Linked DNA regions of Homo sapiens. The protein of the gene in region 3 interacts with the protein of the main gene of each other region in a biochemical or structural test. Each region holds a gene or a part of one and is shown on either strand. Other genes may lie near its edges.

What was found.
Region 1: the proteins of MARK2 (region 3) and KIF13B form a complex in vitro, tested with the Homo sapiens proteins (one study listed by BioGRID).
Region 2: of the proteins of MARK2 (region 3) and PKD1, one has a biochemical effect on the other in vitro, tested with the Homo sapiens proteins (one study listed by BioGRID).

Annotation. Positions count from the first base shown.
Region 1 is NC_000008.11:29,074,347-29,078,136, forward strand, and holds part of KIF13B (kinesin-like protein KIF13B), read right to left. Parts: intron 998-3,790; coding exon 935-997; intron 1-934. UniProt on the Homo sapiens protein: Involved in reorganization of the cortical cytoskeleton. Regulates axon formation by promoting the formation of extra axons. May be functionally important for the intracellular trafficking of MAGUKs and associated protein complexes.
Region 2 is NC_000016.10:2,088,208-2,090,958, reverse strand, and holds the end of PKD1 (polycystin-1 isoform 1 precursor), read left to right. Parts: coding exon 1-75; intron 76-150; coding exon 151-285; intron 286-368; coding exon 369-674; exon of another isoform or gene 675-764; coding exon 765-1,232; 3' UTR 1,233-2,251; downstream 2,252-2,751. Other genes in the region: TSC2 (tuberin), read right to left, coding at 2,349-2,513, 2,634-2,732. UniProt on the Homo sapiens protein: Component of a heteromeric calcium-permeable ion channel formed by PKD1 and PKD2 that is activated by interaction between PKD1 and a Wnt family member, such as WNT3A and WNT9B. Both PKD1 and PKD2 are required for channel activity.
Region 3 is NC_000011.10:63,897,982-63,901,771, forward strand, and holds part of MARK2 (serine/threonine-protein kinase MARK2), read left to right. Parts: intron 1-250; coding exon 251-299; intron 300-626; coding exon 627-692; intron 693-781; coding exon 782-852; intron 853-1,070; coding exon 1,071-1,127; intron 1,128-1,892; coding exon 1,893-2,129; intron 2,130-2,577; coding exon 2,578-2,697; intron 2,698-2,798; coding exon 2,799-2,898; intron 2,899-2,975; coding exon 2,976-3,088; intron 3,089-3,790. UniProt on the Homo sapiens protein: Serine/threonine-protein kinase. Involved in cell polarity and microtubule dynamics regulation. Phosphorylates CRTC2/TORC2, DCX, HDAC7, KIF13B, MAP2, MAP4 and RAB11FIP2. Phosphorylates the microtubule-associated protein MAPT/TAU.

The DNA.
Region 1 (3,790 bases), on a different chromosome or scaffold from region 3:
AAGCAGGGAGCAGGATGGTGGAAAGCACAGACTGGCACTCCAGGCCCCATCCCCACTTGACTGGAGTTGATTTGTGAGTTGAAACCCAGATGCCATCTATGGATTATACCCTTGCCACTGAAGAAGACATTTCTGGAGACTTCTGCAAAAGCCCAAGCTTGGAAAACCACCATGATGAGCTACAGAAGCTGCTGCCTTCACTGGCAAGGGGCTTGCTCTGACCATCCTGCTGACCAGGGACACTCAAACCTGCCTCAGAGAAGAGACCGGCACCATTCCCAGGGGAGGGGGCACCCCGATCCCGGCCACAGCAAATTCGTGAATGCCCAGTGTGCACTGGGGTAAAAAGGTCATTCAGATAGAAGTAAATTCACGGAGATCTGAATATTCTTTCTAATGATTGTGCCTCTGTTGCTGTTGTTTTAATAAAGAAAATTTTCCTAAGAAGATACAGCATTTCCTAAGAGAATGAAAGCGCAGTGGGAGAAAATAGATTTGCTATTCATAAGATTAGAAGTGCTGTTGATCTGTGGGAGATTATAAGAGACTATTTTCTCCACAGCTTAGCATTCGTCTTTTCACGCTGATATCATGAATCAGAATGAAATGTAAAACTGAGAATTAAGCAAACATTTAGAAGAAGGAGATTGTTCTGTTTATAGAAATCTCCTCTGCCTAGCTGTGGGCTATTAAGGCAGCAGACTACATTAGCAGTCAAGCACCTAAAAGTTTAGCAATCATATGATTAACAAGTTGAAAATAGAAAAGTATAACAAGGAAAATAGAGAGGGAGAAGGCAGTGACCTATATTATAACTAATTACCAAAACAGGAATGCTAACATCAAAAACTGTGGGTGTGGACTCAACAGTTTCGGCATCAGGGCCACCTGCTCGCTGTAGGTGGGGTGGCCACCCGTGACCCAACAGACTCACCTCCTCCATCCTGGTCACCCTGATGTCCGGGCTGGCTGACTGCACCATGATGCGGGGCACGGGCTGAGGAGGCAAGTGTGCAGGTCAGGGGTCGAGAGGACAGAACAGGGGTAGCAGAAAGGTTTCCGCTGCACAGGCTGGAGGGCCAGGACCTGCCCGAGGGGAATCGGCCCATCAGGTGTGCGAGTGTGAGGGGCTCCACACCCTCCAAGGAACAAGGGACCCAGCAAGGGGCTCCTCCCCCAGCCAGGGAAACAGGCCACATGCCAAGATCACCAACACACATGGTGCACTTACACACACGACGCTCTCTCCCTCCCTCCAATCACATATGCACATGTGAACCGAGGACTGGGCCTGTACAGACAAGCATTATGAGACAGGAAAGATACAGAAAGACTTCCGGCAGGAGGTGAAAGCCATGCCAGGCTCTGATGGCTGGGGAGAGGAAGGAGTGTAGTCACAGGAGGGGAGGAGGAAGGAGGCCAGGCTGGCTGGAGCACAAACCCAGAGCCCAAGATGGCAGGCACAGGTCTGCAGAAGGCCCTGGGCATCGGAAACTAACCCTACTCAGGAGAGGAAGGGGGTCCCCACTGAGTCCTGAGCAAAGCAAGAAGACAGCTGAAGGCCAGAGACACTGTCCGGGTGGGGACACAACATGACCGGAAGAATATTTAAAGTCCAAAGAGGCAGATCAGTAATGCAACTCCAGTGACAGAGCAGGGGGAGGAGGTAAGAGCCACAGGAAAGGGCCTGGTTACTTGTGGACACATGGGCCAGGGAACATTAAAGAGACAGAGTTAAGAATCATCAGAGCCAGGAAAAGGGAAGCCTCGGGGAGAGAAGGAACCAGAGCATCATTCTGTTGCTGCGGAGTGGCTGTGGGACACAGAAGCAGCCGAGCAGATGTGCTCATCCCAGAAGAAGCTGGGAACATGCCACTTCTGCCCCTCCCCCTCCCCCTACCCGACTGCAGGAACCAGGCCTGGCCTCCCATGCTGGGCTCTCATGAGGGCTCCATTCTGCCAGGACAGCCGCGGGTAGGGCTTCTTTCTTGTTGGGTCCACAGGGCACAGCTGGTGGCTGCTCGGTTACTGAACTTTAACTGCCCAGAGATGTGGACTCCACGTCTCCCACCTCCCTTCTCCCAGCCCTCGGCAGTCCTGGTGCTTTGGCTCTTGTGCGTCTGGGCACTTGAGGCCTCGATGGAGTCAGGCCTTCTAGACAGAGCCTGCAGGCGCGAGCCACACCGCCCAGGCCTTCCTTCCTACTGGGGAGCCTGGACTCCAGCTGTAGGGAGAAGAGTCCCGAAGAAGCCAGCCCGCTCAGCAGGGTGCTCACCATGTTTACAAGCATGGAATAGCCTCGCTTCACCTGAGGGCACCACTATGACCACTCGTGCCTTGGGGCTGCTTTTGGAAGAAAAGTATAAGAGGGAATTGATTCCACAGAAGGTAAGGGGGCACTGGCAGGATTTGAGAAAAGGTGCAGTGGAGAGGACTCGAGAGGAAACGCAGCGATCAGGCTTAAAGACCTGGAAGGACTGGAGCCAGATGTGGTGGTGCACACCTGCAGTCCCAGCTCCTCAGGAGGCTGAGGCAGGAGAATCACTTAAGCCCAGGAGTTGGAGGCTGCAGTGAGCTATGATCACACCACCACACTCCACCCTGGGCAACAAAGCAAGACCCTGTGTCAAAGAAGAAAAAAAGAAAATAAGGTGGAAGGACCAAGGAAATGAACAAAAGGAATGTGTACTTTACACTGCAACCACTAGGGAGTTCCTGGGGTGGTCTGAGGCCCAGGACAGCTAGGACCAGGGTGCATTAAAGATTATGTGAGCAGCCAATGGGACAGAATGAGGGAGGGTCCCCTGGTGGCAGTTAGGCCATTGCACATGACAAGGCCTGAAGAACAAGACCTTCAGCCTCCACCTCAATTCCTTGACCAGAACAGTCTCCCCTCTGCGCCCCTCCCAGCACTCAGCTCCTTCTGTCCCACTACTGCTCTCCACGGCCCCGCCTACCGCCATCTCCCAGAGAAGAAAGTGAGGCTCAAGCACGCGTCCCACACTGCCACGCAGTCCTCGCATGCCAGGGCTCGTATCTTCATTTTTCTGCCTATAGTATTTAACGTCCCCACAAATGGGAAGGTGTTCAAGGGTATATTTCATGACAAAAGCAGAAAAAACATTTCTCAAACTCCAAAATACTTGCATTCTTCACTACATCTTACCTAAAGTGGACAAGATTGGGGAACAACTGTTTCCACAAAGGTGAAGTTTATTCCCCTTAAAGCCTAAAAATGCAAATACCCCAAGGATGGGATGTTAAGCGCCTAACATGAAACCTTTTCTAAAATCACATGATTCCTGCCCTCTGAAATAGAACATGCAAACAAGTTACACTTTCCTTCAGGACCCAGTGTGATTAGAAAAACCCAGTAGATAGATGCTTATTAAATATTTGCTGAAATGGATTCAGGGACTCGACTGACTGCCACTTTGGTTCTCACTCTCCATGTAAAAAAGTTCAGCTCAACAGAGACTGCACCAGGTCCTACCATGCGGGGGGCGTGGCACCAGGTGCCTCAGGCAACATCAGCATCAGAGGCATGGGCTTTGCTCTCAACAGATGGGCAACCTGATTGGTGGGGAACACATAAGCAAATCACTAAAATCAAGGAAGGTGACAGTGGAGTGGAAGCTTCAAAAGCAGAGAGGAGGCCAGGCACGGTGGTTCACGCCTATAATCCCAGCAGTTTGGGAGGCCGCAGCAGGAGGATCACCTGAGGTCAGGAGTTTGGGACCAGCCTGGCCAACATGGTGAAACCGTGTCTCTACTAAAATCCAAAAAAAAA
Region 2 (2,751 bases), on a different chromosome or scaffold from region 3:
TTCGACCAGGTGGCGCAGCTGAGCTCCGCAGCCCGTGGCCTGGCGGCCTCGCTGCTCTTCCTGCTTTTGGTCAAGGTGAGGGCTGGGCCGGTGGGCGCGGGGCTGGGCGCACACCCCAGGGCTGCAAGCAGACAGATTTCTCGTCCGCAGGCTGCCCAGCAGCTACGCTTCGTGCGCCAGTGGTCCGTCTTTGGCAAGACATTATGCCGAGCTCTGCCAGAGCTCCTGGGGGTCACCTTGGGCCTGGTGGTGCTCGGGGTAGCCTACGCCCAGCTGGCCATCCTGGTAGGTGACTGCGCGGCCGGGGAGGGCGTCTTAGCTCAGCTCAGCTCAGCTGTACGCCCTCACTGGTGTCGCCTTCCCCGCAGCTCGTGTCTTCCTGTGTGGACTCCCTCTGGAGCGTGGCCCAGGCCCTGTTGGTGCTGTGCCCTGGGACTGGGCTCTCTACCCTGTGTCCTGCCGAGTCCTGGCACCTGTCACCCCTGCTGTGTGTGGGGCTCTGGGCACTGCGGCTGTGGGGCGCCCTACGGCTGGGGGCTGTTATTCTCCGCTGGCGCTACCACGCCTTGCGTGGAGAGCTGTACCGGCCGGCCTGGGAGCCCCAGGACTACGAGATGGTGGAGTTGTTCCTGCGCAGGCTGCGCCTCTGGATGGGCCTCAGCAAGGTCAAGGAGGTGGGTACGGCCCAGTGGGGGGGAGAGGGACACGCCCTGGGCTCTGCCCAGGGTGCAGCCGGACTGACTGAGCCCCTGTGCCGCCCCCAGTTCCGCCACAAAGTCCGCTTTGAAGGGATGGAGCCGCTGCCCTCTCGCTCCTCCAGGGGCTCCAAGGTATCCCCGGATGTGCCCCCACCCAGCGCTGGCTCCGATGCCTCGCACCCCTCCACCTCCTCCAGCCAGCTGGATGGGCTGAGCGTGAGCCTGGGCCGGCTGGGGACAAGGTGTGAGCCTGAGCCCTCCCGCCTCCAAGCCGTGTTCGAGGCCCTGCTCACCCAGTTTGACCGACTCAACCAGGCCACAGAGGACGTCTACCAGCTGGAGCAGCAGCTGCACAGCCTGCAAGGCCGCAGGAGCAGCCGGGCGCCCGCCGGATCTTCCCGTGGCCCATCCCCGGGCCTGCGGCCAGCACTGCCCAGCCGCCTTGCCCGGGCCAGTCGGGGTGTGGACCTGGCCACTGGCCCCAGCAGGACACCCCTTCGGGCCAAGAACAAGGTCCACCCCAGCAGCACTTAGTCCTCCTTCCTGGCGGGGGTGGGCCGTGGAGTCGGAGTGGACACCGCTCAGTATTACTTTCTGCCGCTGTCAAGGCCGAGGGCCAGGCAGAATGGCTGCACGTAGGTTCCCCAGAGAGCAGGCAGGGGCATCTGTCTGTCTGTGGGCTTCAGCACTTTAAAGAGGCTGTGTGGCCAACCAGGACCCAGGGTCCCCTCCCCAGCTCCCTTGGGAAGGACACAGCAGTATTGGACGGTTTCTAGCCTCTGAGATGCTAATTTATTTCCCCGAGTCCTCAGGTACAGCGGGCTGTGCCCGGCCCCACCCCCTGGGCAGATGTCCCCCACTGCTAAGGCTGCTGGCTTCAGGGAGGGTTAGCCTGCACCGCCGCCACCCTGCCCCTAAGTTATTACCTCTCCAGTTCCTACCGTACTCCCTGCACCGTCTCACTGTGTGTCTCGTGTCAGTAATTTATATGGTGTTAAAATGTGTATATTTTTGTATGTCACTATTTTCACTAGGGCTGAGGGGCCTGCGCCCAGAGCTGGCCTCCCCCAACACCTGCTGCGCTTGGTAGGTGTGGTGGCGTTATGGCAGCCCGGCTGCTGCTTGGATGCGAGCTTGGCCTTGGGCCGGTGCTGGGGGCACAGCTGTCTGCCAGGCACTCTCATCACCCCAGAGGCCTTGTCATCCTCCCTTGCCCCAGGCCAGGTAGCAAGAGAGCAGCGCCCAGGCCTGCTGGCATCAGGTCTGGGCAAGTAGCAGGACTAGGCATGTCAGAGGACCCCAGGGTGGTTAGAGGAAAAGACTCCTCCTGGGGGCTGGCTCCCAGGGTGGAGGAAGGTGACTGTGTGTGTGTGTGTGTGCGCGCGCGCACGCGCGAGTGTGCTGTATGGCCCAGGCAGCCTCAAGGCCCTCGGAGCTGGCTGTGCCTGCTTCTGTGTACCACTTCTGTGGGCATGGCCGCTTCTAGAGCCTCGACACCCCCCCAACCCCCGCACCAAGCAGACAAAGTCAATAAAAGAGCTGTCTGACTGCAATCTGTGCCTCTATGTCTGTGCACTGGGGTCAGGACTTTATTTATTTCACTGACAGGCAATACCGTCCAAGGCCAGTGCAGGAGGGAGGGCCCCGGCCTCACACAAACTCGGTGAAGTCCTCCACCGAGGAGATGAGGCGCTTCCGCTGGCCCACCTCATAGCCAGGTGTGGGCTCGGCTGGAGTCTGTGCAGGGGCTTTGCTATGGGACGGAGGGTGCACCAGAGGTAGGCTGGGGTTGGAGTAGGCGGCTTCCTCGCAGATCTGAAGGCAGAGGCGGCTTGGGCAGTAAGTCTGGGAGGCGTGGCAACCGCTCTGCCCACACACCCGCCCCACAGCTTGGGCAGCCAGCACACCCCGCTGAGGGAGCCCCATATTCCCTACCCGCTGGCGGAGCCGCTTGATGTGGCGGAGCCGGGCAATCCACTTGGAGGGGTAGATATCGGTGGGGTTGGAGCGGCTATGATGCACCTGTGAGGCCATCTGGGGACGTAGGCAGGGG
Region 3 (3,790 bases):
ACGCAGCAGAGGGCATGGCTGGCTCATCCTGATGCCATCCCGGGTAGCACGTCCCCACAGCCAGCCCTCCTCCAGCTTCCCCAACTTCCCAGCCACAGGGAAGGCCGTGCATGAGCTAGACAACCACCCTATTTTCTTTTCCCTGCCCGGTTTTGGTTTTTTGGGAAAAACAAATCCTGGCAGGGACTGTTTGGAGAGACCTGATGGGAGCAAGTTGGGCAGGCATGACCCCTGGTATTTTATCTTCCAGCTATTCCGCGAAGTAAGAATAATGAAGGTTTTGAATCATCCCAACATAGGTGAGCACAAGTTGTTATTTCTTTCTTCTTCCCCAACAGCAAGGCACTGCTTTCCAGCATGTCATCTTCTCCCCGAGGTGCACTGCCTTCTGGAGTCTGCAGTCTTCAAGGATACCCCTGGGGAAGCTCAGCTCAAAATCCATCTCCCCTTCTGGCACACTGGGCTGTCTTTAGCAGTTTGGCTGGCATGAGAGGAACTTGTTCTTGGGAGTGGGGGATCATGAAAGGAGGGGAGACTTTCGTTCCTAGGATGCTCCTGGACATGTTGGAGAGCAGTATGTGGCCCCTGTTGCTTCTTGACTTAAGGCTTGGCCTTTTCTCTTGTAGTTAAATTATTTGAAGTGATTGAGACTGAGAAAACGCTCTACCTTGTCATGGAGTACGCTAGTGGCGGTAGGTGTGGAACTGCCTCTTCCTGTTGTGCCCCCACTTCTTCCACCTCCAGCCAGCTCTGACTGAGATCCCTGCCTGGTCTCTTACAGGAGAGGTATTTGATTACCTAGTGGCTCATGGCAGGATGAAAGAAAAAGAGGCTCGAGCCAAATTCCGCCAGGTAGGTGTGACTCCCTCCATAGGAGCTAGGCCTGACCTCTGCTTTTGGGGTTTGACATGTAAGGATAAGCTGCCTGTCTGTAAGTGGCCCTTGGAGGGTACTTTGGGCTCTGCTTATCCGTGTGGCAGGTTAGCACTAAGTCACAGGGTCACTGCTCTGTCAGCCCCTGTGGCCCACCCTCAGGCACCCCTGGGTTAACCCTTCTTCCTTCCTTTCAGATAGTGTCTGCTGTGCAGTACTGTCACCAGAAGTTTATTGTCCATAGAGACTTAAAGGTAAGGCATGCACTTCTCCTTGTGCCTTTGAGTGGGAGCCAGGTTGTTGCCTCTTGGTTCTCCATGATAAAACCATCAATAACCATCAGGCCCTGAGTGTTCCAGGAAACTCCAGCCTTTCTTTTTTTCTTTCTTTCTTTCTTTTTTTTTTTTTGAGATGACCAGAAAGCCCCTAGGGCTGCCTCTGATAGAGGCCTTGTGGCTGGACCTCGGGTTCCATTCTAGCCCTTGAGCAGGGGCCCTCTGCCATTTCACCTCTTGGCACATCACCTTTTAGTGCTGCCAAGCAAGGCAGGCACACTCCAGGCTTTCTCAGTCTTTCAGGCAACCTGGTAGCTGACCCAGGGAAGAGTGCTGAAAGTTCCACAGCTGTATCCCAGCTGCTTTGCAGGCAGGCACACACATACCATCTCCATCACCAAGATACTCAAGTTTGAGGACACCTGTGGGTCTCTTGGCTGCTGAGTCCTCACAGACATGATTTGATTAACCTGGGCCTGATGCTGAAGCTTTGCACAGCTCACAGGGTCTCTGGGCCTTCAGATCCCATCTCTCCCATGGCTGCCCACGTGAGGAGTGGCCTGCATTGCCTTCCTCCTGCCCAGCCTATTCACGCTGATTGAAGCCCTGCCCTGAAATTGGTGGAGAAAGTTCTGAGACTGAAGATGACTTTCCGTTTGTTCTCCCATTCCCCTCAGCTCCTTCCTGCCCAGGGCCTTAGTCTGGTCCACTTGGTTCCCTGATGTTTTCCATCTTACCTCCCAGGCAGAAAACCTGCTCTTGGATGCTGATATGAACATCAAGATTGCAGACTTTGGCTTCAGCAATGAATTCACCTTTGGGAACAAGCTGGACACCTTCTGTGGCAGTCCCCCTTATGCTGCCCCAGAACTCTTCCAGGGCAAAAAATATGATGGACCCGAGGTGGATGTGTGGAGCCTAGGAGTTATCCTCTATACACTGGTCAGCGGATCCCTGCCTTTTGATGGACAGAACCTCAAGGTGGAGTGAAGTGCAAGCTTTTTATTGCTTCTCATTTCCTCTCGGCCTCTGGTCTTAGCCCTGACCTCCTGCCTTTGCCACCTGTCTACATTTGTCCCAAGCCAAAGCTTCAGAGAAGGGCTTGCTGAGGTAGCAGCAGTCAAAGGCCTTCTGCACCTGGGAATGAATAACCTCAGTTCCTTTCTCGAAAGATGGGATAAACTGTGTGTGTGTTCATCCCCCAAGGCACTCCGGATTGCAGGCCTCGGACTGGTCAAGTTAGAGGGTACGAGGGTATTTGACTTCACTTGCCTCTCTGGTGAGGTGTCTTGTCCCCAGGCTGTCTGCCTTCTTCCATATTTCATTTATGTCTGCTTTGCCAGGCTTAAGCTCTCAGGATCTTGGATATTAGGTTTCTTCCTTTGGCCTTGGGGTGATTTCAATTTTCTAACCCTGGATCCTCCTGCAGGAGCTGCGGGAACGGGTACTGAGGGGAAAATACCGTATTCCATTCTACATGTCCACGGACTGTGAAAACCTGCTTAAGAAATTTCTCATTCTTAATCCCAGCAAGAGAGGCACTTTAGAGGTGAGCAGTGGAGCCCAACTGGCGGAAGGGCCTGGGGTCCCCACAGAAACTTTCCAGCTGAGTTTCTTCCCCCTGCCCTTTTCCTTCTCTGTGCTCCCCAGCAAATCATGAAAGATCGATGGATGAATGTGGGTCACGAAGATGATGAACTAAAGCCTTACGTGGAGCCACTCCCTGACTACAAGGACCCCCGGCGGACAGGTGAGGCTGTGCCGGGCTGTGAGGTTAAGCTTGCCTAGGAGTTGAGGCCAGTCTTAACTGTATGTCCCCCTGTGCAGAGCTGATGGTGTCCATGGGTTATACACGGGAAGAGATCCAGGACTCGCTGGTGGGCCAGAGATACAACGAGGTGATGGCCACCTATCTGCTCCTGGGCTACAAGAGCTCCGAGGTGTGTGCTCCCCGCCCCATTCTCTGACCTGGCCAGCCTCACTGTCTGTAGCACCTATGCTTCTAACACCTGTTGAGGGCAGAAGCTCATCTCTGAGTAGGTGTGCTCTCTGCTCACCAATTTTAAGCCTCAGCTTTGGTGTCTAAGGTCCTCTGGCCCATTCACTGATCTCCATGAGTGAATTAATAGAAAGCTGGTAGGGTCGGTGTGGGACTGGGTCAGAGTTTCAATACGGGTGAGTTGATCTAGGTTAGTCTGCATTGATTAGATGTGTCTAGGTCATCGGCTAGCACTACTACATTGATCTAGATATCTTTGTGTCTCTTTTTGTATCTGGAAGTGTACATTTCTGGGTGTGTGTGTGTGTCTCTGTGTGTGTCTGATCGGAAGTTTGAGTCTGTTGCTTTTTTTTTTTTTTTTTTTTTTGAGACGGAATTTCGCTCTTGTTGCCCAGGCTGGAGTGCAATGGCAGGATCTTGGCTCACTGCAACCTCCGCCTCCCGGGTTCAAGCGATTCTCCTGCCTCAGCCTCCCAAGTAGCTGGGATTACAGGCATGTGCCACCATACCCGGCTATTGAGTCTGTTGCTTCTGTCTAGTGCTTTATGTTTGGGTGTGTGTATCTGTGTGTGTGTGTGTGTGTGTGTGTGTGTGTATGTGTCCGTCTTCCCGTCTGTGGATCTGGAGACTTTGTGATTGTTCT